Linked DNA regions of Homo sapiens. The protein of the gene in region 4 purifies or fractionates together with the protein of the main gene of each other region. This does not show direct contact. Each region holds a gene or a part of one and is shown on either strand. Other genes may lie near its edges. The genes, in order: ROBO1, RAPH1, TGS1, SRGAP3, CCDC85C, SH3GL2 and NKTR.

Region 1 (3,500 bases), about 71 Mb from region 4:
CTATGAAGGTTAGTGATTTCCAGTGATATAGCACTGAGCTGAGCATGGGAGGAGGGGAGAGACTCAACAGCTGCCTAGGGAGTCCCAAAGGTTTAATGCCAACTTTCTCTTACCCTATACTGCACAAAATAAAGAACAAATACCCTAATATCTCCCCAAAGAGAACTGCATTGTTCTGTATAATTTTCTTTTATCTTATAACATAGTAGAATCAATTCAAATACAAAATAACATTGACCAGAGATGAAAAGGAAGCTATACACTTGTGTGCACTATTTGGAAAGTAGTGTTGTGCTTAGCTATAAAATCTCACTTTTTGGCCTTCATCTATACTTAATACATTAGGAACTACTTTTATTTAAGCAAGATTTAATGTATTACTTTCATTACAAAGCTGAGAAACTCTAGACACCACAAAGATGTGAATTTTAAATGAAAAAAAGCAAGGCAGTAAAGTAAGCCCCTGGCAGCTTGATGAATGAGCAGGTGCAATGCACCATTTGAAATGTATCTTGAGGTGAGCTTCCACCAATCTGCTGGAGAATGAGCTCCTTCTTGCCACCTAAACTCAACTGATTTTCCTCTTTCTGAGACCACAGACAAAAACATGATAGCATACAATAGGCTAGATTATGACCTGGTCACATAATCATTTATCTCTCTAAACTTGCTGTTGAAGTGAGCAATGTTACTGTTAATGTATTCATATTTGTACCTAAAATATATTAGTGCCAATTCTCCTAATTCTATAGGAAATTGAGGTCCTAGAAGGCTAACTGACTAATTCAAAACTACATAGGATAAAACTGTAGAAACAGTGTTAGTCACCGTACCTGCAATAGATATTTCACTTAATCCCCACATAACCCTTTCAAAGTAGGCTTTATTAGATGTCTACAACACATGAAGAGAATGAAGCTCAGAGAGTTTAAGGAAAATAGACATGACTATTCAGCCAAAAAGGGGCAGAGCCAGGATTAAAAACAAGTTCTTTCTCATGACAGAGTACATGCTTTTCTAGTATGTCATACTGCTGCTTTTAAGGGAGCCATTCTCTTCAGTTAACTGGACCTACCTATTTTCCCCCATATTTAAACAAGGAGTTTGATTATTCCTTGAATTTTATTTTAGTACTCATAATTTTTTAATCTCCTTGATATCTTTTTCATGTCCAAAGCATTATCTGCATTTCTCCAAGAGCAAACTTTTACAGTTACTTTCCAAGGATCTCATAAACAGTAAATAACTTTTTCAGAAAATATACCCCACCCCTATCTGCCACCCTGCCTGTATCATCTCTGGGGGTCAGAGCACTTGGGGAAAACTGAGGGGCTTTCCATTTTCTTTGAAATTTGTGCATATGTAGCCAGGATGCCTGCTAAGGATCCAGTACGTCAGTTTCAGCCAGTTGTTCTTTTCTGCCTTTCCATTTCTGCACACGTGTCTTCTCTAATCTGCAAAATTATCTTCTTCATTTGGCCAAACCCTATCCATTTGTCTAGGGTGGTTCATGTTCCTTCTCCACCATAAAATTTTTCTTATTATTCCAACCCTATTGCTGTTCCTTACCTCTGAAATTCCAAGTAATTTCCAATAACATCTGCTGTCTAATTTGGTCTTTATTCAGGGATTAAGAGGAGTAAGCTAACATTTTTTGAGCCTTTACCTTATATACTTTTACATACATTATCCATCAACTATAAATTTCTATTTCTTCATTATATTTCTGCATTTTGCCCTTATTATTTTTTCGCACTCGATAGTCACCCAGATGTTGTGATACATTTCCGGAGTTTCAGTAATGACATTCAAATTTTATATTTCTTGTCCATGCATTGCTCCTGATTGTCATACCTATATTTCCAAAGATCTAATTTCATCTCCACCTAGAAATGCATCACAAGCATTTTAAAGGAAACTGTCCTAAAGGAAAGCATTCAAAGCCACAGGTATCATCCTCCCTGCCACACTTGCTTATCTCTTTAGATTTCCAAGTGGTAAATAGCACATCATGCATCAAGACACATTCCTCTTTGCTATGTCCCTCTGCCTCATTCCCTATGATCATGTAGTGAAAAGAAAAAAAAAATTATGATTTTTCTCTTGAACTTCACCTCTTCTCCTCATGGGCCTGCCCTCCAATTCTTACTTCCACTTCCTGGGATCAGCCATTTGAAGTCATGTGCAACAAGTTTGGCGAGCTATCTGTCAGGGCAAAAATGACAATTTCTAAACTCCTTAGTCATTGAAGGTACTCTGTGATATGAAGCATGAATTCTTCTTTTCAGTCTTCAGAATTATCAATTACTATGAAAATTTACTTGCATTTTCTTAAACACTCAGGATGTTTCATTCCTCTCGGCTTTTGTGTGTGTGTGTGTGTGTGTGTTTGTCCAGAATTCTGCCCCAAATGGTTCTCACTTTCTTATTTTTTTAGCGATGTTTGAAAACACAAAACAAGTGTCACTTCTTCTGTGAAGACCTTCATGTTAAGAAAATAGGTTTAAGTATTCCTCCCTTTCTGATCATTTAATAATGCCTCTGAAATTCCATTGTAATCATTTATTCGTTTCTACTATGAGACTGCGCTATGTTCTGAATGCTGTGTCTTCTCCAAATTCATATGCTGAAATTAAAATTAGGAAGTGGGGCCTTTGGGAGATGACTAGACCATGAAAGCAGAGCCCTCAGGAATGGAATTAGTGCCCTTATAAAAGAGGTCTGAGTAAGCTCTCTTGCCCCTTCCCCCCCGACTAAACATAAGAAGATGGCTGTCTATGAAGCAGAAAGTGGGTCCTCCCCAGACACCAAATCTTCCAGCGCCTTGATATTGGACTTTCCAGCCTCTAAAACTATGAGAAAAGCATTTCTATTGTTTACAAGGCACCTATTCCATAGCACTTTGTTGTAGCACCCTAAAGATACTAAGACAGACTCTAAATTCTGTGAAGCAGTATGTCTCAAACTTTGTCCATTGAACCAAATAAATCTTAAAAGTGAAAAAAGTAGCCCTTAAAACACCAGTCCCAGGATCCCCCATCAGAATTACTACAATAGAATATATGGGGGTGGGGCACTTGAGTCCACATATTAACAGAATCTATTCCAGGTGTAACTAGGAACAGGGAGTTTATCACAACAATTGCTCTCCAATTCAGTCAGATCAATATGGCACTTAATTTAGCATTTGGGGGAGGAGCCATTTGCAAAGCTTTTTAGATCTTATTTTGTGTCTTCCCAGATTACCGTGCTTCAGAGAAAGATTTGCTTAGAGTATAGTAAATTAGATCACATGAGTCACTCTTACTGAAGTACAAGAGTCCTGCATCAGAAAGGCAGATTTGCCAAGAGCAGAATTTCAGTAATCACATGTGAACATGGCATTTAGAGTTGAGGTGCTGCTGTGCAGAGTACTTGGAGCTTTTAATGACTCTGACTTTTTATTATTATGACAAGTTTGATTAGCAGACACAAAAATGAGTGAAACAAGTTCCCTTGAA
Region 2 (4,145 bases), on a different chromosome or scaffold from region 4:
TTAAAATACAAAAGGGCAGTTATGTTTCAAAAGTACAGATATCTCAAGTGTGAAAGGCAGCCAGTATCTGTATTGTATGGTTCTAAATACCAATTTGAAACAGATTGTGTACCAGTTTGGAACAGATTGTACAAAAAAGACTGAAACCACTTGAAAGTCCTCAAGAATATCAGGAAGTAAGAATGTAATTAACCAAACCAGGATTTGGCCCCAGGACAGAGAAATGAACACTCTCATTCTTAGAGAGGGAGCTAGGATTTCAGGAATGTACAGTCAATGCTTTGTGAAAATTTAAATAAATTCTTAGCAAGCAGATGGGAAGACATGAAAAAGCAATGTTCATTGCAACCAATTTCAGGTCACACTCCCAATTTCTCAATTGTTTTAATGCTGTCAACAAACTTGCTTTGCATGTAGCCAAGCAAACATAACTTAGTTCCATTTGTTCCTTTCTTTGATCAACTTTAGGTGAAGGTCAAAATAAGGACATACTTAAAATCTAAAAGTCTGCCGAAGTCAAGCCTGCATCTAAAGAGGCAGCAGCTGAGCTTAGCGATAAGGAAAAATGCCGACACCTTACTACTACACAATTCCGATGGGGTGGGGGGACAGAAATTAAGGAGGCAGGATTAACAGATTTCGAAGTTTAAAAAGTAAAGGTCATCGAAATGTCCCGTTCCTAAGTTTCCCAATACATTCCATGAAACTGCAGAGACTTTTTGGCCAAAATGGGATTTCCTAAAGAAGGGCCTCACAGATCTCAACGACAATGGTCCTGTAAGTGACCGAGCCAACCCCGGATGCGTTTCTGGAGTCTCTGAATACACGGACAGCGTATAAAGGTGGATGCGTACAGCTCCCTGACAGAACTGCTGGAGGCTGCTGTGCCTCCCAGGGCGCTAGGACAGAGGCTGCTGGGCCGGCTTCCTATGAAAGGCGAGCAGGGGGTGGGGCAGCACTGGGATTTTCCTCCCCACTCATTCATTCTCTGATTCACTCGTTCCTGTAGGCGGCTCACAGGGACTTGCGGAGGAAAGGCGAGGCACGAGCGGAGCCGCGGTTGAGTGCGGCCGGGCGCGGCCGGGCGCCTGAAGGGAGGGCGGAGGGCCGGCGCGGGGCGCGGGCTAGGGAAGGGCGGCGGGCGCGGCGGCCTGCGCCGGAAGTGAGTGGTTGGCGGCGGGCGGGGGCGGCGCGCGGTCCCGCGCGAGTCGGCCCTACAGTCGGCAGTCCGGCCCTCAACCCCGCCTTCTGCGTCTCGGCTGGACGCGAGCACACTCGGCTCCGCCGCCGCCGCCGCCGCCGCGGGGCGCTGCGGCCGCCCCGCCCCCGCTCCCGCCGCCGCCCGCCAGTCAGTCAGTCAGTCAGTCAGTCAGTCAGTCAGTCAGTCACTGAGCGCGCGGCGCGGGAGCTGCTGGCAGTCGCTGCGTCTCTGGCGAGGGAGCGCCGCGCCTGGGGAGGAGGCGGAGGCAGCGGCTGGAGGAGCGCGAGCGGCGGTTTCCTTGCCCGGGGCCGCGGGAAGGCCGACCGACTGCCGCGGTGAGTGGTTAGCCTCGCCCTCGGGGCCAGGGGGTAGGGAGCCGGCTGGGCGCGGGGCCGTGAGGCGCTCCTGCCGCTCCCGCCTCCATTTTCCCGGCGCCCGGCCCCGCCATCCGGGTGCGGTACGGTCGGCGGCAGCCTGGGGCGGGGTCGTTGCCAGGTTGGGGATCGGGCCGGGGCTGGCTGGACCGCTCCCGGCTGGTGGATGGAGGTCGGTGGGGCCTGGACTGCACCCTGCGCCCCTGGGGACCGCGACGGAGGGAGACAATGAGATAAGGGGCCGCCTGGGAGGGTGCGGTTAGGCTTCTCCGACCCAGCACCGGGGGCTGGTGGCCCGGGACCGCAGGGAGGAAAGGACTTTCCCCCGCCCAGCTGCAGAAACCAGCTACTGGATGTCGGGTTGCTTGGGTTTCGATGCCCCCATCTTTCATAGATGAGTTCAGTGCAGAGATTTTGAAAGGCGGGGCTCCTTCTGTGTCTTCTTTCTAATTAAACAGGATAAGTAATTGCTTCATTGCTTTTTAACCGCGTCTCCTCTTGCGGTCTGTATTATACATTCCCGCCGGAAATCCAAACTGCAATTCATGGGGGGGGGGGGGGGGTGGACGGAGGGAGGGGGCAGTGTGATAGTATTAGGATGCCTTCGTGTTAAGACAGGTTGAAAGATGTGGTTTTCTTAAGGCAGTGACTTAGGGTGTCCCCACTGTGTGAGCTGGAAACCGCATAAACCTTATTGCTTACAAGCTCGAAGACATGGTTTAATATGAAATAAGAGCCTTGAGGGAGGGTGTAAGTGTTACATGTGTCTTGCGTGTGTGCATTTCTTAAATTCTTTGGGAAGATCCGTTGGGGAAATCCGGGAGAATGGAAAAGTTCTTCACTCAATCTTCCAATAAGGGTTGATGTTGTCTGCAGCATTTCTCAGGGAAATGTGGAGAGCTGCTTATGTAGGTAAAGTCCACCGTTAAGGAACAGTAAAGGTAACGGGTTAGGGATGAGGCGTGATCGGATTATTAAAGAGTCAGTCCATGGGGATATTAAATTCAGCAAACATTTATGGAATACCTACTCTGTCAGTTAGGCTGGGTGACACCAGGTGAACAAGCATGGGGTGGTGGAAAGAGCTCTTCGGAGTGGGGGAAACCGTACGCCCTGGAATTGGCTTGCAATGTGAGTTGGATAAGCTATTGAACTCTGCAGTACGTTCCCTATCAGTAAAATGGGAATAACACCACCTGTTTACCTCCCCAGATGTTTTTCATGTAGATTAAATGAGATAATGTATGCAAAATGCGTAGCACCTTGCCTGGCATAGAGGTGTTTAACAGCACCTTAAATTCCTTTCCTCCTCGGGGTGGTTTTTTTGGGGGTGCGGTGCGGGGGGTTAGTGAATGTAGGTAAGTGTAATACAGTGAACTATATAGTAAAATGTTGAGGTATAGAATAGGAGAGCGAAGAAGAGAGATTAATTCTAAATTGAGGGAGGAATGCATGGAAGCCTCGGCATTTAAGTGAAACCTTTAAGGATGAGTAGGATTTCAGCAGATTCAGATGGGGAGGAGGACATTTCACATGGTGGTGCTATCCTTTGAGAGCCGAATTGAGGGGGAGGACCTTTGGGGGAGGGGCAAAATAGAGACGCTCAATAGCTTTTAACTCTTGTTGAGTCTGACCTTCAAAGATTGTCTCCGTTATTTTGCTTTTTGTGTGGTGAATTTCCCAGAAACCAGATGCAGCCCTACTCAAGTAAGTACAAAAAGCTTAATTCATGATTTTTTGGGTTAGACATTTTGTATAATTTAGATTGCTGTCTCCTGTTTGAATGTAATAAAGAATTATTTGTAGATGTTGCCTTATGATAAACGTTAGCTTTATTTGGTAGAAGCAGCAGCTTATTTTTCAGACTCAGAGGTCTCACTAAGATTATAGAGTATGTGACTGGGTGAAAGGAGTGGAGTAGTGGGCACTATTGGGTGTGTTTTCACAAATATTTAACTCTTTATTTTCCAAAGAGGTGTTTTTAACCATTGTCTTTGAGGATGATTATGTCTTTTGGTTTTGCTGCCCTTTGGTGCTCACCCCATAAATACTTACTAGATTGGCATCGTGGATAACTGTCACACTATTCACAGATTCTTGGTTACACATTGTAGAATCTCATGGCTTTGGTTGCCTTGGTTTGGAAGTAATTGAATGTCAACATTAGTATTGTTAATCCCAAACACTTAATTTTAGGAAAATTAATATTAGTGAAGCAAGATGTGACCTCAGGCAGATAACTTATCTTGGACTCTTAATTCCTTTACCTATAAAATGAGAAGTTTGGATTAGATCACTGCTTCTTAAACTGTTTCACTGAACTTGAGAATTTCAGAGATTCTGCAGATGTTTGACTTTAATCTCAATAAAAATGTATTTTAAACTTATAATAATAAAAAGTGGCCACTGTATGACGTACACTGTTTTAAACACTTTATATGTGATAATTTATTTAATTCTCGCCATAACCCTATGAAATAGAGTCTATTATTTGAGAAAATAGGCACAGACAATAAGTTGCCCAAAGACTGCAGAGCTATAGTGGCAGAGCTGGATTTGAAACCGGGCAG
Region 3 (3,500 bases), on a different chromosome or scaffold from region 4:
AAGGCTCAGAATCTTACCAGTAGATCCTGCCTCTTCTTACATGATTACTGGTGTTGTGAACATAACAATCATTTAATAACCACTGGCTTATGCATACAAATGCTTACTCTAACACGCTCTGGTGAGAGGGGTCTCATGTAACTTACCTCCTCTTCAGTTTGCTTGGCTTATGCTCAGGTGGGTCTTCCTCACTTTCATCTCCATCAGTACCACTGGCATGTGGTCTGTCTTTGCTTGTGTTTGCTCCTGAAGACTTCTGTGAATCTAAAGAGGCAGAAATATTGCAGTAGCTTTTCCCCCTTGGTTTGACAACTTTTCTGCTATTTGCAAAGCCAATGAAAATATTTTAGCACCTTTTCTACAATGAACTGTACATGTGCATCAAAGTGCCAGCTCACATCTACCTGTTTGTGTCTACATGCAGAGTCTGAGCATTTTAAAAATCTTAACTATAAGGTTTGTTAAATTAAATTTAGCCTAAAACTGTCCATGTATACATTTTAAGCTCAGCTTAAAGGTTTTTCCACATGTAGTGAACTGTAACCTAACTGGTGGTATAAAAAGACTGTAACCTACTCTTGTATCAAGCACAGTTTTGGCTAATCACAGGCAGCCAACTATTCAAATGGTGTTCAAGTAAGGCAAAAGCTGGGCTGTAACCAATCCAGCTGTTTGTGTACCTCACTTCCACCTTCTGTACGTTGTACATCATTTTTCTTTTTCTGTCCATAAATGTTATCCCAATCATGTGGCAGCCCTGGAGTTGCTCTGAACCTATTCTGGCTCTTGGGGCTGCCTGATTCGAGAATCGTTCTTTGCTCAGTTAAACTCTATTAAATTTAATTTGTATAAAGTTTTTTAACAGGTTTAAAAATGTTCATGATCTAACTACTTAAAAAAAAACACAACAAACTAAAACTACTTCTTCATAGCTGCCCAAATCTATACAAATTAACCCACAAAGCTGCCTTTGTGATAGCTGTTAGCAGTCACATTCTTATGGAATTTTAATTGAAATGACCGTAAAGGGGGCATAATCACATTGATTAAGAAGAATTTCTCTTCATTTGCCTTTAATATAGTATGAAAGTAACATTAATAATGAGAGTAACAAAGACAATACTATCTTTAAGAAGAGTTCTTTAACTTATGGTGACAAAAACTGAGGCACAAATCTGTCTTTGTTCTCTATTTTGTCAGACTGGAAGAAAGTGGGTGGCTGAGACCAGGAGGAAAAAGATGTCTGCAGGGTAGACAGTGGGAAGCTTTGACTCTTTCAGAAAAGCACCAACCACAAAGAGTAGAAAACATACTTACATAGAAGCATAACCTATACCTTAAATTTTGAACTCAAGGGAGGATCTAAAACAAATCAAAATCTAAAACCCTCAAATTCATCCTGATGGCAGACAAACTGGAGTTATTACAGAAATGGACAATCTATAAACGTAAGTAAGGGAACAAGCAACAGAAGGCAGAGACTGTGAGACTTACTGTGTCTGCCAAAGAAAAAAGCAGGCAGATGAGGGAGGAGAACCAAAGAGGGTAAATGAGACTGTAAGTCAGAGGCCAAAACAATGCCCAATATGTATATTATAAACTTTATGGTCAAAATATGTACAGAAAGGTATCAGGAGAGTATAGAAGAGTATCAGAATACTAATATAAAATCTTCAGATAAAAAAGGATGGCTGTGCATGGTGGCTCACGCCTATGCACTTTGGGAGGCTGAGGCGGGAGGATCACTTGAGGTCAGGAGTTTGAAACCAGCCTGGCCAACACGGTGAAACCCCGTATCTACTAAAAATAAAAAAATAAAAAAATTAACTGTATGTGGTGGCACACACCTGTAGTCCCAGCTACTCGGGAGGCTGAGGCTGGAGAATTGCTTGAGCCCCGGAGGCGGACCTTGCAGTGAGCTGAGATAGTGCCACTGCACTCCAGCTTGGGTGACAGAGTGAGACTCCATCTCAAAAAAAAAAAAAAAAAAAGGATGAAAATGTATCACCAAAATAGAAAGGAATGAGAATATTATACTGAGGTAGGCTCCACTTATAAGAATCTAAGAATATAGAGAAAAAAAGCAAGTTGACAGAGCTCTTTAGAAACTGTCAGCTGGATGAAGTATTATCAGCAATCTGAGATAAGCAAAGCAAATCTGATTGTTAAGTAAAAGGTCAAAACCATTTGTTTCACAAAAGAGTAAGGCTGAGAAGAAAGTTCCTCTACACTAGATGTCTTCAGCATGTAACATCAGGATGCCAAAACTTCAGGATATGCAGATGTCACAGAAATTTCCTCCTCTCCCATTTTCCTGGTGCTGTTAATTGGCAGAAGCCTCTCCCCAGCAAGAGCACTGATAGGGTTTGGATGTTTGTCCCCTCTAAACCTCATGTTTAAATGTGATCCCTAATGTTGGAAGTGGGGTCTGGTGGGAAGTGTTTGGGTCATGGGGCAGATCCTTCATGAATGGCTTGGTGCCTCCCCATGGTAATGAGTTACTGCAATATCTGATTGCTAACAAGAGCCTGGGACCTCCCCCCTCTCTCTTGCTCTCTCTCTTGCCATGTGGCATGCCTATGCCCCTTTCACCTTCTGCCATAATTGGAAGGTTCCTGAGGCCCTCACCAGGAGTTGATGCTGAGACTATGCTTCCTGTACAGCCTGCAAAACTGTGAGCCAAAATAAACCTCTTTTCTTTAAACATTCCTCAGTCTCAGGTATTCCTTTACAGCAATGCAAAGTAAACATTCTCATCGCACCGTACTCAGATTAACTCCTTTCAAAACACTTCTCATTGGCATTCTCTAGTCCTGAGTGGCACCAGTTTGCACAATTAGCTTTTTTTGGATCAGTTATTCAGGAATCAATCAAGTTCCTTATCCTGGATATTTTATTGATGAGAATCCTGAAATTAACCATTCCAGTTATAAATTAATATTGTGCCCCATTGAGATCTTTTTTTCACAGCAAGACTTCACTTGTCCTAAGTGAATTCCACATATGACTCATAAGACATTTGCCTAATGTCAAATGTACATTCTCAATTGCTTTCTAACATGCCTCTTATAAATTCATTTGCTGTGGAAAACTAAAAGTTCCAAGCTCACTTTATATTAGATTTCTCAAGAGATTCCACATTTTCCTTCATTAGCCACCAAAGTACAAGAGAAGGAATGATACTTTTGAGAACTGCATGCAAATATTCTTATTAATAGAAAAGGATAACTTGTGATATGAAAACAGGATGGATTAAATCATTTCATTATTATATGAAATGTACTTGGTATTATTTAACTCTACAATAAAGGATTAGTAGTTATTTTGCTAAATGAATTCATTTTGCTAACCATTACATGGCAGAATAAATCTTGGTTAATCTTACCCTCAGCTGGTGGGTCTGTGTTTGTATTCCCCGATGAGTTGCTTTCCTCATTGGTTCCTCCATTACGTGGTTCACTTTGGCCGGAAGCAGGGCACTCTCTTTTGCTACTAACTTC
Region 4 (3,500 bases):
ACATCACTTACTCTTGGCCCACACAATGTACAGTAGGGTTAGTGTGAACTCAGTTTCAGAGACAAGGAAACTGAGGCCCAGTTAATGTTAAATGACTTGCCCAAGGTCACAAGGCCGATTTTCTCCCAGGCTTGTGTTCCCTGACACATTGTTTGCCCGAAGCTGCCCCTTGAAGGATTGATGTCAGCAGCAGATGGCAGTTTTGTGGGGGGACTGGCAGCCTCTTGATGGAGTTCCATTGTTTACCCTCTTACTTTCATCCCGTTGCCTTTGTTGCATGCCTCTGAAGAACATTTGACCAGTCACCAAAAACAGTGCCCGAGGCCAATTACCTTTCTCCCTGGGAATCATCTGGCCAGTGGGATGCAAAAAGTCCACCTAGTCAGACAGATTTTGTGCTTTGTGAATTTTGTGAAGGGAACTTTTGATTTTTAAAAACAGTGCTGAGTTCTTTGTTGACTTGTTCCCTTTTATGTCTTTTTCAAGAATTTATAGACCTAACACAAAGGAATGTTTTAGAACAGTATTTTTTCTATTGTAAAATAGAAGGATTCATGCCTTCTCTTGCCTCATCAGATACTTGAAGCCTTTTGATTATGAAGCAGTAGTAAACCATATGCTTGCACATTTCTAGTGATGGGGAACTCACTACCTCCCAAGCCCACGTAGTCTATCATCTTTGGACAGCTCTGGCTCTTGTAAGCATTTTTTCTTTTTTCTTTTGTGACAGAGTCTCTCTGTGTCGTCCAGGCTGGAATGTAGTGATGTCATCTTGACTCACTGCAATCTCCGCCTCTTGGGTTCAAGAGATTCTCCTCCCTCAGCCTCCCGAGTAGCTGGCATTACAGGCACGTGCCACCACATGTGGCCAATTTTTGTATTTTTAGTAGAGACGGGGTTTCACCATGTTGGCCAGGCTGATCTCAAACTCCTAGCTTCAAGTGATCCACCCGCCTTGGCCTCCCAAAGTGCTACGATCATAGGTGTGAGCCACCGTGCCTGACCCTTGTAAGCATTTTTTCTTATGTTGCATTGAATATGTCTCTCATCTACTTATTGGTTCTATAGTTCCTTTCCCTTTGGACTTCACAAAATAAGACAGATGTGTCTTCCCTTGGACTGCCCACTGGGTGTGTGGAGCCTGGGAATATAACCCCTGACAATGATTATCCTCATATAATAGGATGGTTCGCTACCACTTACCATCTCCACTCTCCTCTGTCTCTACTGCATCCTGGGTTGCAAACCTCAGTGTCATTGGGTGCTTGGCAGATAGAATAAATGGATAAAGTTGGCCACGTGAAACAATTTGTGGCAGCTGGCCTACCACCTCAGTGCAGGCAGTAGAAGGGTGGTGGTGGTGATTGTGACGGACTTCAGAGTACATGTTCTGTCTAAATGGGCAGTCACTACTTAGGTTCAACCAATTATTGCTGTTTAGGAATGTAGGCCCAGACAGATTTTTCAATTTTTCAACAGATGCCAGAAATCTGGATGAGAGCTTTATGTTTTTAAAGAGATTTTGCCAAAAGGACCTCCAAAAGATTATATTATCAGTATCCTATTTCAAGAGTGGCACTGAGTTCTAAATGTGGTTCTCTAGATGTGGCCAAAGACAGAAAACAACTATCACCTCCTTTCTGCTGTCTGCAATACTACTATTAACATAGCCCAAGGATTGAATTAGCCTTTGGTGCTGCTCACCCCCTCAGTGCACCATGTATATTAAGTCTGCTGTGTTTCTCCAATACACTAGCCTAGGAGCCTTGTCAGAGAGAAGAAAATGAAATGCATTTAACATGACTTGTTCTTGGTGACCCCATGCTGGTGCCAAATGGACATTACTTCCTGTCCTAGGTGCTCATAAGTGTCCTTAACAAATCTGTTTAAGAACCTTGCCGGGAGTGATATCATATTATCTAGTCTGGAACTGGCAAACCATAACATTTTTCCCCTTTTGAAAATCAGAACATTTGCCAGGCTCCAGCTTTTTGGCACCTATCCTATTCTCTACAATTCCCTCAAAGATCACTGATGATATTTGGTGATCTTATCTGCAGGCTTTCTCAGTATCCTGGGGCTCTAATTCATCTTGCTGCCAGACATGATGGTTAGTTCTGCATCTATTCAGAGTTCCTATTTCCATTGCAACCTGATAGAAAATTGAAATAGAAATGCAATGATTGACTTTGGTGCTTTTTTTTTTGTTACATATTCATCCATCTTCTTAGTAGCAAAAGTCTAGAGGTTTGAGGAAGAAGGGCAGGTATGGAGGATGACCACAGAGGGGCATGTATTTATTCATTCATTTCTGCACTAATTCAACAAAAGTTGATTATCTACATTGTACCTAGTCTTGTGCTGAGTGTTGTGAGAGACACAAAGTATATGATACATTCTTTGCTTTCTAAGAGTTTTCTTGGAATATGGTGATAAAAATGAGAGAAAGAAATAAAAAAATCCCAAACACAAAAACTTCGAGAGCCAGAACGAACTGAATCTTAGAGCGTATATCATGCAGTGATTAGAAGATCACCTTAGGAATGCTCGCTGGTTTCAACAGGATAAAATGAAGAAAGCAGGCTGGGCTGGGCAAACAGAGGGGAGTAGTGGGGGCTGTGGCCAAGTGGGGAGTTCCTCTAGAGAAGGCAGATGCTGCTCCAGCCTGCTCTTCCTAGGCAGGAATGTGAGCCCAGAAAGGTCAGTTCCTTCAGTGTTTCAAGGGAATCTGGATTTTTAAGCAAAATCTCTTGATTTTTAAATGGTGGCTTAAAAATTTAAAAACACTATGCTTCCTGAACAAACATGTCGGTAGAACAGTTTTAGCCTGTTGGGCCACCAGTTTGCAAAATCTGGTCTACAAGTTGAAGTCCGCACGAAGCCTTGGTGAGGGGCCTCAGCCAATTTTCCTATTTCATCTTCAGTCATTTTCTCTGTGATAGGCTTGTGCTCTTATAAACGCAAAAAACCAGTCCCTTTTCTCTCTCTCTCTCTCTCTTTTTTTTTTTTTTTAAGACAGAGTCTCTCTCTGTCACCCAGGCTGGAGTGCAGTGGCACAATCTTGGCTCACTATAACCTCTGCCTCCCGAGTTCAAGCAATTCTTGTGCCTCAGCCTCCCAAGTAGCTGAGATTACAGGCATGCGCCACTATGCCTGGCTAATTTTTGTATTTTCAGTAGAGACGGGGTTTCACCATGTTGGCCAGACTGGTCTTGAACTCCTGACCTCAAGTGATCCGCCTGCCTCGGCCTCCCAAAATGCTGGGATTACAGACGTGAGCCACCATGCCTGGCGACCAATCCCTTTTCTCTAAATCCTCCATACCCTTCCCCTCCTCCAGGTCTTTCCCATTTGTGCCTTTACTCTCCTTACCCCCTGCCTCCCACTCCTATTTGCCTCAAATACTTCTGATCGCCCTTCAATGTCTACTCAAATGATGCCTTCTTCCACGATGCCTTCCAAACTCTTCTAGGCAGAATTAGTGGTCCCCTCATATCTCC
Region 5 (3,500 bases), on a different chromosome or scaffold from region 4:
ATTCAGAGTGTGTGCTGGCTTAGAATGCATTCTCCATTGGAGAAGATTTTGTAACTCTCTTACTGTTGCAGAGTCCTGGCCAAGAAAATCAGGTGGTTTGGAATTTTCGCCCTTAAGTGGAGCTAGGGGTACATCTCTCAGGAGAGGTGACCCAGAGAGGCATGGGTGGCTCTGATGGGGTGGGGGGAGGGGTGTCACTCATGGTTGGGGGAGGGTGAGTGCTGGGCCTAGGGGTGGGGGCTGTAGCCTCTTCCTCTTTTTGGTACCTGGTGGGTGGGGAGGGGGCTTTCCTTGATCTGACCTCCACCTGCGGGCCGTGAGTGCCTCTAGTTAACCTAGGCAGGGTCAGCCAGGGTTAATGCCGTGGTCAGGGCATGGCAGTCCCATTTGATGGTTCAGGGCTGTGCCCAAGGCCCCCGTGCTGAGACCCCTTTGTGATGCTCGCCAGGGTTATCTAAAACCCATCACACTTTGGGGGCCCTGCAGGAAGGTTGGTTCCCACTTCTCTGTCTCTCCTTTATGTCCCTCCCTGACCTTGGACCACACCCAGGTCCTCCCTGAGGCCCAGGAAGCAGCTCCCAGCCTCCAGTGCCCGGCTGCCCTGGCTGACCGGCGTCTGGTGGGCGTGGGCTATTTAATGAGGGGAGTCAGTGCCGGATCCCTGCTTTCCTGTCTTGGCTCCGTGGGAGCTGGTAATAGAGCATCCACTTGCCTCCTCACCCCCGCAGGACACGGCTGTTTGCTGGCCCTTGAGCCAAGCTCTTGAGACCTCCCAGCCCCAGTGGGGGGCCTGGCCAGGGCTCTGATGGGGCTGGGAGAACACAAGAGCTGGACCTCAGTGAGGCTGGGGCTTGTGAGAAGTGCGGGGCCAGGTCCAGCTTTTGAGGGAGGCAAGCAGGGTGTGTGTGGGATCTTTCACAGCCAGGCCGAGGGGCTGGTGAGTGGAACTGGGACCCCAGACATGGCTGCAGCCTGTCCTGCCTTCCTTGCCCCTGCCCCAGCCCAGCCCCAGCCTGGGCCTCCCCTGCCCCTGCAGTTTGTTTGGGTAACTCAACAGCCTGCTGATTTATGGGACATTCCGCAGGGTTTTATCTGCCCAGCCACTTTCTCTCAGTTCCTTTGAAGTAGAAAAGGGTGTTTCGGCCAGAAACACCCAAAACCCTTTAGTGATGCAGAAAGAAAAGAAAGGCCGGGCCTTCTGCTGGGCCGGGCCAGGGGAGGGGCACTGTGGGACTGACCAGAGAAGTTTATGGGACCTGTGGATTCATTCTGGCTCCTGGTCCCAGCCCCAGCCCCAAATTCTGGGGGTCGGTGGTGTTTGCTTTGCTCTTAAGCAAAGGGTCTAAGGCCAAGCCTTCCTCCCTCCCTCCTGTGTGCAGGAGTTAGTTACAACCCCACAGCTTGCACGAGTTCTCAGGGATTCAGAGGCAGCACCCAGGACCTGCTTTAGGAGCTCCCTGCCCATCCGATGGGGGAGGCAGCCTGGGCGGAGCATCCCGAGAGAGCCCCGAACCCGTGGGAGGTGGGAGGCCTCGCCTGTGGATGTGGCCCCATCTGCTGCCGATGGCTGGCCCAGGCCCTGTGAGTGGTGCCGTCTGTGCAGGGACCCAAGGGCAGGAAGTTGGAGCGGAGGAGCCAGGGTGAGTCACGGGGTGGGAGAGACACTCTCTCCTCACTCGCTCTCACTGGCTCTTCTTCATTCATTCATTCATTCTGTTTATTCAGCCATCCAACAAATGTTTACAAAGCCCACGTTGGAGAGTGGATCGCTGACATTTGAGCTGGGGAGAGTGAAGATCGATTGATCCCGGCTCGGGGGATGGATAAGCGGTGTGGAGGGGAGGGTGGAGGGGTCCTCCGGGGCCGTGCCTTTGAGCAGCCCCTGCTGCCGTGAGGAGCCATGCCCAGGGCCCTTGTCCTCCTCAGCCTGGCCCTCCGTCTAACCCCTCTCCTTCTCTCCCCTGCAGCAGGCAGGCTCCGGAGAGTTCCGCACGCTGCGGAAAGGCTTCTCGCCCTACCACTCGGAGTCCCAGCTTGCGTCCCTGCCGCCCTCCTACCAGGACTCCCTGCAGAACGTGAGTGTGCACCCCAAAAAAGCCCACATGTTCTGGATGAGGGGCTGAGGCTCAGGCGGGCCAGTGACCTGCCCGGAGGGGCACAAGGATCTGGGTGCCTGAGTTCAGCCCCAGCCCTAGGCCCTGTGTCCGTGTCCCATCCAGTGTGGCAGTTAGAGGCGGAGCCCCAGGTGGGTTGACACTGCTGGAGGTGCGGGGCAGTCTCCAGAGGCCACGTGCGCAGGGCTGCCCGTGCCTAGCCCCTGTCCCTCTGAGCAGCTCATTAGCCTGTGCCACTCCTTGGCCACGGTGGGGAGAGGGTACCCGGCCAGCCCTGGAGCTTGGGGTTCAGGTTTGTGGATTCTGCACTGAAATGACCAGCCTGATGCCTCCAGGGGTATCCTCTGCCCCTACCTGGCTGACCTGGCCTGGAGGGAATGGGGTGGGCGGCTTGGAGCCAGCTCCCGGGAAGTGGAACCTAGCTCAGGACTGTGCCCTGTAGATAGATATGATGGCAGTGGGGAGCCACAGGAGTCCAGGCCCACTTGCCCTCCTAGGACTGGGGGCCTTGCCTTGTGGGACTTCACGCCTCCAGGAGCCTTGGTGGGTGTGTAGCGGATGCTTGGGAAGCATCGGCTGTTCTCGTTGCGGCACCTGCAGAGCCGTGTATGGAGGTGCTTCTTGGGCAGCACGTGCGCTTGTAGCAGCTGTGCCCCTTCCTGCTCTCTTCCCTGCACCCCTTGCCCACAAGGCTGACCCCAGGCCCCCGGTGCAGAGCTTGCTGGGCCTCAGTGCTGGCTGCTGGCTCTGCGATTTCTCTTTTGCTGCCCTTCCACCTTCTCCAGGAATGCAGCTGTAGAGCCTGTGCAGGCAGCAAAGCCCGCCAATGGCCGATATTCCAAGCATTTATCCGGAGTCCCGTGGCTGAACGAGGCTCTAACTGTTTCATGGTGGAGGGCTCTGAAAAGCCAAGGGATGCCCTCACGGGGCTGGCTCCTTAGTCTTCATGCCCCGTGCCTCTCATTCATTCAGATCGTGGGAGGGAGTAATAGCAGCTAGCAGTTACTCAGTGCTATGTCCTGAAGTCTTCCGCGTGGCCTGCAGGTTGGGAAGTGCTGTGCAAGCACAGCTCTCACATGTACCAGGCCCGCCAGATGCTGTCTCCCTGCAGGCCTCTGGAGAGCACACCTCAGGCATGGGCCGAGCCTCAAGGCCTGAGAGTGCGGATAAAATGCTGTCAGAGTTCAGGAATGTTCAGGAAGGCTTCCTGGAGGAGGCAGCCTTGGGAAAGGGTTTGTTCCTCTTGCCTCCTTTTTTCCTCTAGACTGCTCTGTGCATGAAGGGGTGTCCCCTACTTTGGAGAGGAGGAAGTGAGGCTCACAGGGGTGGGGTGGATGGCCAGGGCCCCATGGTGAGTGCGTCCTGGTGCCTGTGTGTGCCTAGAGG
Region 6 (3,500 bases), on a different chromosome or scaffold from region 4:
CTGATGGCCAGTGATGATGAGCATTTTTCCATATGTCTGTTGGCTGCATAAATGTCTTCTTTTGAGAAGTGTCTGTTCCTATCCTTTGCCCCCTTTTTGAAGACTTAAATGTTAGACCTAAGACCATAAAAACCCTAGAAGAAAACCTAGACAATACCATTCAGGACATAGGCATGGGCAAGGCATTAGACTTCATGTCTAAAACACCAAAAGCAATGGCAACAAAAGCCAAAATTGACAAATGGGATCTAATTAAACTAAAGAGCTTCTGCACAGCAAAAGAAACTACCATCAGAGTGAACAGGCAACCTACAGAATGGGAGAAAATTTTTGCAATCTATTCATCTGACAAAGAGCTAATATCCAGAATCTACAAAGAACTCAAACAAATTTACAAGAAAAAAACAACCCCATCAAAAAGTGGGCGAAGGATATGAACAGTTTCACTTTCTTTAAACAGCCTTCCCTAATGGCTCCTCACACCAATCCCAGGCAAGGTTAGTTGAAGACGGAGGCTCAGGAGCTTATAAGATGAGAAATTCTTGTAATTTAGGATGCATCAAAACTTACTTTCAAATAGTAATTGGAAATTTTGGACATTGAGAAAAATAACAGTTACATGTCATAAGTTCAAAGTTAAACTGTACTGTTCTCAAATGGCAATAAGCTCAATTCTGGGAGCTTATGGGAATTGCTAGTTATAATAAGTTACTTAAGTGGAAATCTTCTTTATGCTAAGTTAATCAGGCCTGTTACTAAGAGAATATGTACTTGGATATTACCAGCTTAGGTATATAAATAACTCTTCTGCCAAGTGCATAACAAGGCACATTCAGGGGTCTCATGGGGTTATGGCCCTCAGCTTGTCTCTGGCTGACACAGTGTAGTTTAGCAAAAGAGTCCTGGGCATTATTATGGAGGACCGAGGTGGAGAGAAGTTAGAAATTAGTCAGCCTCCTACTGGCAGATGACTTCAGAATGTGACTAATCATTGGACCATTCAGTTCTTCTGGTACTTTTTTAAAGAAAGCCTCTGATTAATGGCCTTGGGAACTACTTTTCTCCTCATAACACACTTAAAGAGCTCCTTTCCCTTCTCTAGGCCACAGGTGTGGACATTTAATAAATTAAAGCGTTAAACAGAATGCTCCCCTGGTCTCTTCCTCTTATGTCCATGAAGTCTATCAAGTAATTATCTGTAAGAATGCAGCCATGCCTGGTGCAGTGACTCATGCCTGTAATCCCAGCACTTTGGAAGGCCAAGGCGGATGGATCACTTGAGGCCAGGAGTTCGAGACCAGCCTGACCAACATGGCAAAACCCCGTCTCTACCAAAAAATACAAAAATTAGCCAGGCATGGTGGTGCGTGCCTCTAGTCCCAGCTTCTTGGGAAGCTGGGGAGGGAGAATCGCTTGAACCTGGGAGGAGGAGGTTGCGGTGAGCTGAGATTGCTCTACTGCACTCCAGCCTGGGGGAGAGAGTAAGACCCTGTCTCAAAAAAAAAAAAAAAAAAAAAAAAAAAAAAAAAATTGCAGTCAGTAGCAAGGGCCTAGGAATGGATTTGCCAAAAGTGGGTCCCTCTTTAGTATAATTCCTGATAATGAAATAAAAATGTAACTGTATTGAATAAAGTTGTTTTCAGAGGTGGTGGATTTCAAGCGAAGGTTATTTTATGTTGTAGTCAAAAGGGTTTAGGTAGAACTTGCTCTGTAATGATGCCTGGACTAGGTAACCAAAAGTGTTGAAGGAGTCTGCCTCAATGGGCACAAAGTCGGTAAACATCTGGGTGGGATGAGCTCTTTCTTTAGACAAGTCACAAGGGACACTGGAATAGTTTTTATTCCTACTTCTCTTTTAAGATGGAGTCCTGCCCTGGGGACCAAATGTAATAATCTAATATTGGTATCCCCAGGGTCTCTGGGTCTTCCCTGAGACCACTGGCTTCAGCCAAGCTAGTGGTGTCTGTTTACACTACATGAGTGGTTGGGCTCCCTACACAGAGCTTAAAAGGGAAGGGGGTTCTGTAGCCAAAATGAGAAACTAGCTTTCACAGCCTTCCTTGCTCACCTCCCTGTGGGCCAGGTGGGATAGACACTGCAGGTACCAGTCTCTGTAGGGAAACCCGTGAAACTGAGGGCCTGTGGTTCAGCAGATCAGCATTGCAGAGCCTCCCTTCCAGAGAGGCCCAGGATGGAATAGTCTTGTGGATGAAGCTTCCACAGACTTTGAGAAGTTTCAAAATAAAAACAGAATATGGGATGGCAGGTACCTTCCTGCTGATGCTGTTTCACCGGCTACTGCCAGGTCCCCAGCCCCATCTTAGGGAGGGAACAAAGCATATTCCAGCTCTGACTTGGCCTCTCTTTCAGATTGGGAGATGCCTCTGTTGCCTGTCTTTTTAGGAAGAGCTTTTGCTTTCAAGAAGTATAGGATGGTCATTAAGAACACACACACTGGAACTAGAACTGGGGAAGTTTCTTAACCCCTCTGTATCTGTTTTCTCATATACATTACAGAGTTTGTGAGCATTGAGTGTGTAAAGATATTTATAGTCCTTAGAACAGTTTCTGACAAACAGAAGACAGCTTATGGTGATGATTGTTATAATTATTAAGGACAGAGATGGGGGAACCTTAGAAATTGGTCAGCCCCTTAACAGCAGATGACATCAGGATATCAAACAGCCATTGGAAAATTTAATTCCTATGGCACTCTTTTTTAGAAACCTTGGCTTTTTGAATGATTTTCCTTCTCATCATAACTACAGGATATTTAGACACATTTGTCATCTAATTCCTTAATTCCCATCACATAGGCAGCAGGAGATCTACATTTGTACTTCTATCACACATGTACCATGGAGTTTCAGCATATTTGTTCCATACACACCTTTGATCCATTTCCCTGGCATAAGACATTCTATGACTTGAGTACATAGTGGTTGTTTGGAATTTTGCTAATACTAGGACCTTCACATATGGCTTCACAAGTTGTGTACTGCACAACTCCAGGGGGCTACTGAGCATTTTTAAGCTAATCACTACCTGGTACACACTCAATCTTAAAGATCTTTGAAATTTGAATCAATCAAAAGGATATTTATACAAGATTTATATGTAGACAGGCACATTTGAAATTGCATCCTTCTAAAGATAATTTTATATCATTATAACTTCACAAGAAAAAATTTGTTTTCCTCTGTTGATCCTAGTAATAGCAAACACACACAGTAATATGACTGCCATGGAATGAAAAATTATTAAGTATTGAAAAACTGAACTGAAAGATAAAATCTTTTAATGTGTGGATTATGGAAAAGGAGGAGGCTTACTTTATGCAAGGCTGATATTATATACCGGTATATATTATATACCGGTATATATTGGTATATACTGATATTATACTGGTATATACTGATATTATATACTGGTATATATTATATACCACTAGGTACAGCAGGTTATGGAAAAGTTTCTCATAGTTGAAGGGGGAGCCTTTT
Region 7 (3,500 bases), about 33 Mb from region 4:
ACTAGCACTTTTTGAGTATATTAACTAAATAGTGGATTTTACACAACTTTTTTTTTTTTTTTTTTTTTGAGGCGAAGTCTCACTTTTTCACCCAGGCTGGAGTGCAGTGGTGCCATCTCGGCTCAGTGCAACCTCCGCCTCCCAGGTTCAAGCGATTCTCCTGCCTCAGCCTCCCTAGTAGCTGGGATTACAGGCATGTGCCACCACCCCTGGCTAATTTTTTTGTATTTTTATTAGAGACAGGGTTTCATCATGTTGGCCAGGCTGGTCTGAACTCCTGACCTCAAGTGATCCGCCCACCTCGGCCTCCGAAAGTGCTAGAATTACAGGTGTGAGCCACGGTGCCTAGCCTGTGGTTTTTATTAAAGAAATTGGTGCATTTTATCTAAGTTGTCAAGTTTATGTGCTTAGAGTTGTTTGTCACAGCCTCTTTTAATATCTGTGGGGTCTGTAGTGGTGTCTCTTTTCATTCCTGATATTGATAATTCTTCCTTTTGTCTTTTTCCTTTGTCAGTCTGACGAGAGGTTTATTCATTATACATTTTCAGAGAACCAGATTTTGATCTGATTGAATTTTGTTTCTATTTTTGTTTTCAATTTCATTGTTCTCTTTCTTTCTAATGCTTGCTTCAATTTTTATTTTGTTCTTTTTCTAGTTTCTTAATGTTGAAGCATAGATTGTTGATTTGATACCTTTTTTTTTTGAGACAGTCTCAAATGACTTTTAATTTAATTCCATTATGGCTAGAGAACACACATGATTTCCGTTCTTTGTGCACTTGAATGTACATTCTGCACTTGAATGTACATTTTTGTGTAGTGTGTTCTATAAATGTCAAATCCAGTTGGCTATTAGTGTTGGTCAATTCTTTTATATCTTTGCTGATTTTCTACTTGTTTATTGATTACCAGGAGAAGAGTATTGAAGTCTGCAACTATAACAACTGTAATTGTGGATTTATCTATTTCTCTCCTTTTTTTTTTTTTTTTTTTTTTTTTTTTTTTTTTTTTTTGAGACTGAGTCTTGCTCTGTCGCCCAGGCTGGAATGCTGGAGTGCAGTGGCATGATCTTGGCTCACCACACCCTCTGCCTTCCTGGTTCAAGTGATTCTCGTGCCTCTGCCTCCCCAGTAGCTGGGACTACAGGTGTGAGCTACCATGCCTGGCTAATTTTTTGTATTTTTAGTAGAGACAGGGTTTCTTCATGATGCCCAGGCTGGTCTTGAACTCCTGGGCCCAAGCAATCCACCTGCCTCGGCCTCTCGAAGTGCTGGGATTACAGGCATGAGCCATCATGCCCGGCCGTATTTCTCTTTTAAGTTCTCTTAGTTTTTGCATCATTCATTTTGAGGCTCTTAGGTGGGTACATACATATTTAGGATTGTTGTCTTCTTAGTGAACTCTTTTATTATTATGTAATGACACCTTATATTCCTAGTAACTTTCCTGGCTCTGAAGTTTCCTTTGCCTCAGATATGAATATAGTTACTTCCGTTTTATTAGTGTTTACATGGTATATCATTTTCAATCCTTTTACTTTTAACCTTTCTGTATAATATTTAAAGTGGATTTCTTCTGGATAGCAAATAGATGGGTCTTGTCCCACTCTGACAATGTCTTTTAGTCAGTATGTTTAACTGTATACATTTAATATAATTAGTTATGTTTAGATTTGCTTTACTGCTTAAGATTCATAAAAACAGACTGGAAAATGTGTTTTTAGCAAACATTGTAAAGTATTTAGAAGTGATACCAAGAAATTAGTCTTAAGAGGCGACAAAGGATTCAGGCAAATGTTTGAGTACTACTTGTGTCCTTGGTCAAGCCGTTTAACAACCTCTTTGTGAAATGGAACTACTATACAGTTTTGTTCTTAATTTGGTTCCAAAGCTAACAGGACAGGAAAATTTGCTTATATTCAAAATTAAACTAAACTTTAGACTCACATTCAAAATAGCTCATACTTCGAGTGAGGTATATGGGATCTGGTTTGTTCTGAGGGAATAGGAGAAATGCATCTCCGCTCTCAAGGTCACCCTGGGTCATAAGCTCATGAGTAGAGTGACTAGATGCAATGGCCTGAAATTTAAATGACTTGCACTGTATATGCTCATTAACCTGTTATATTATTAACCTAATAATAGGACTCCAGTGTAATAGTGCTTACATAACAAGATTGTTGAGAAGAGTAATTAAATAATGCCATCTTATAGATTGTATTAGAGTAACATGAACTTACTCTAATAGGGTGGATTAAGGAGCACAATTTTAATTAGGCACACTACTGTTTGGTATAACAATCGGATAAGCAGGTGGGGAAGAGTGGCGTGGGAGAGAACAGTTGGATAGCTCTGCTGCTCTGAGTCATTCTTGTTTGTCCTAACTGATTTGAAGGCCACTGTGCTAATGACAGTGCTGGGAATGGAGGCAGAAATGAGGTTTGGTCAGTTGTAGGGTTTCCTCAATGATGTTTAGATTTTATAACGTCCTCTTATAGCTAAAATTTATTATTGATACTCCTAAAGAAAAAAATATTTTTACTGCAACTGGAAACTCCCTTGTCCCCCCCAGTTCCCATTTTTATATGGAAATAGTTATTTTTATATGTGATTTTCGATAATGCAGTGTTTCTTAAAATTCTATCACTGTTCTTGTAGAGCAGTCTGTATTTGTTAAGTATATATAGCACAGTATCTGATTTTTTTTTTAAGTTGCTTTAAGTATTGCATGTGCAGGAGTATGGACACTAAGTCAAGTTAAGGGGCTTTCATATTTAGGTATTGTGCAGGTAGACCTTTGATTTTGGTCCCTTTTGTTCCCAGAGATTGTATCTTAAAGTCCGAGAGACAGTGCTGTAAAGTGAAATCCTGAATTCTTGCTTTCACTCCCTATGTATGTATACTTGTACAAAGAATTGAAGCCTGATTCTTAATTCAGCAATGTTTATTTTATTAAACACCAATTAATCTTTATGTAATCACTTTTTAACATTTTTTAATATTTTGTCTTTACTTTTATTTTAAATTTTTATTTTTTTCTTGGCCAGGCACAGTGGCTCATGCTTGTAATCCCAGCACTTTGGGAGGCCAAGGCAGGAGGATTGCTTGAGCATAGGAGTTAGAAACCTACCAGCCTGGGCAACATAGTGAGACACTATCCCTAAAAAAAAAAATTTCGTTTGGCTTTTTTTTTAGAGACAGAGTATCACTGCGTTGCTCATGCTGGAGTACTGTGGCTATTCACAGGCATGATCATAGTGTGGTGTAGCCTCAAATTCCTGGTCTCAAATGATCCTCCCACCTCAGCCTTCTGATACGTAATCACTTTTGGTGACTGTAGTTTACCCTCATATGAAGATACCTTGTATTAGTTAGGCTAAATGATAAGATTGGTTCTAACATAAAGGTTAAATAACAGTACTTACAACAATATAAAAGTTTTGCTTTTCTGTCACACAGCACTCAGAATCAGCAGATCAGGGCTGTCCATGTGAGGGATCC

What was found.
Region 1: the proteins of SRGAP3 (region 4) and ROBO1 purify together in Homo sapiens (affinity purification with mass spectrometry; one large-scale study listed by BioGRID and IntAct). This does not show direct contact.
Region 2: the proteins of SRGAP3 (region 4) and RAPH1 purify together in Homo sapiens (affinity purification with mass spectrometry; one large-scale study listed by BioGRID and IntAct). This does not show direct contact.
Region 3: the proteins of SRGAP3 (region 4) and TGS1 purify together in Homo sapiens (affinity purification with mass spectrometry; one large-scale study listed by BioGRID and IntAct). This does not show direct contact.
Region 5: the proteins of SRGAP3 (region 4) and CCDC85C purify together in Homo sapiens (affinity purification with mass spectrometry; 3 studies listed by BioGRID and IntAct, with this or other methods). This does not show direct contact.
Region 6: the proteins of SRGAP3 (region 4) and SH3GL2 purify together in Homo sapiens (co-immunoprecipitation; one study listed by IntAct). This does not show direct contact.
Region 7: the proteins of SRGAP3 (region 4) and NKTR purify together in Homo sapiens (affinity purification with mass spectrometry; one large-scale study listed by BioGRID and IntAct). This does not show direct contact.

What each region holds. Positions count from the first base shown.
Region 1 is NC_000003.12:79,761,499-79,764,998, reverse strand, and holds part of ROBO1 (roundabout homolog 1 isoform a precursor), read left to right. Parts: intron 1-3,500. UniProt on the Homo sapiens protein: Receptor for SLIT1 and SLIT2 that mediates cellular responses to molecular guidance cues in cellular migration, including axonal navigation at the ventral midline of the neural tube and projection of axons to different regions during neuronal development.
Region 2 is NC_000002.12:203,532,502-203,536,646, reverse strand, and holds the start of RAPH1 (ras-associated and pleckstrin homology domains-containing protein 1), read left to right. Parts: upstream 1-1,345; 5' UTR 1,346-1,536; intron 1,537-2,415; exon of another isoform or gene 2,416-2,438; coding exon of another isoform or gene 2,439-2,487; exon of another isoform or gene 2,488-3,259; coding exon of another isoform or gene 3,260-3,282; intron 3,283-4,145. UniProt on the Homo sapiens protein: Mediator of localized membrane signals. Implicated in the regulation of lamellipodial dynamics. Negatively regulates cell adhesion.
Region 3 is NC_000008.11:55,786,946-55,790,445, reverse strand, and holds part of TGS1 (trimethylguanosine synthase), read right to left. Parts: coding exon 3,386-3,500; intron 265-3,385; coding exon 147-264; intron 1-146. UniProt on the Homo sapiens protein: Catalyzes the 2 serial methylation steps for the conversion of the 7-monomethylguanosine (m(7)G) caps of snRNAs and snoRNAs to a 2,2,7-trimethylguanosine (m(2,2,7)G) cap structure.
Region 4 is NC_000003.12:9,243,147-9,246,646, reverse strand, and holds part of SRGAP3 (SLIT-ROBO Rho GTPase-activating protein 3), read left to right. Parts: intron 1-3,500. UniProt on the Homo sapiens protein: GTPase-activating protein for RAC1 and perhaps Cdc42, but not for RhoA small GTPase. May attenuate RAC1 signaling in neurons.
Region 5 is NC_000014.9:99,520,708-99,524,207, reverse strand, and holds part of CCDC85C (coiled-coil domain-containing protein 85C), read left to right. Parts: intron 1-1,967; coding exon 1,968-2,075; intron 2,076-3,500. UniProt on the Homo sapiens protein: May play a role in cell-cell adhesion and epithelium development through its interaction with proteins of the beta-catenin family. May play an important role in cortical development, especially in the maintenance of radial glia.
Region 6 is NC_000009.12:17,757,066-17,760,565, forward strand, and holds part of SH3GL2 (endophilin-A1), read left to right. Parts: intron 1-3,500. UniProt on the Homo sapiens protein: Implicated in synaptic vesicle endocytosis. May recruit other proteins to membranes with high curvature. Required for BDNF-dependent dendrite outgrowth.
Region 7 is NC_000003.12:42,603,686-42,607,185, forward strand, and holds part of NKTR (NK-tumor recognition protein), read left to right. Parts: intron 1-3,500. UniProt on the Homo sapiens protein: PPIase that catalyzes the cis-trans isomerization of proline imidic peptide bonds in oligopeptides and may therefore assist protein folding. Component of a putative tumor-recognition complex involved in the function of NK cells.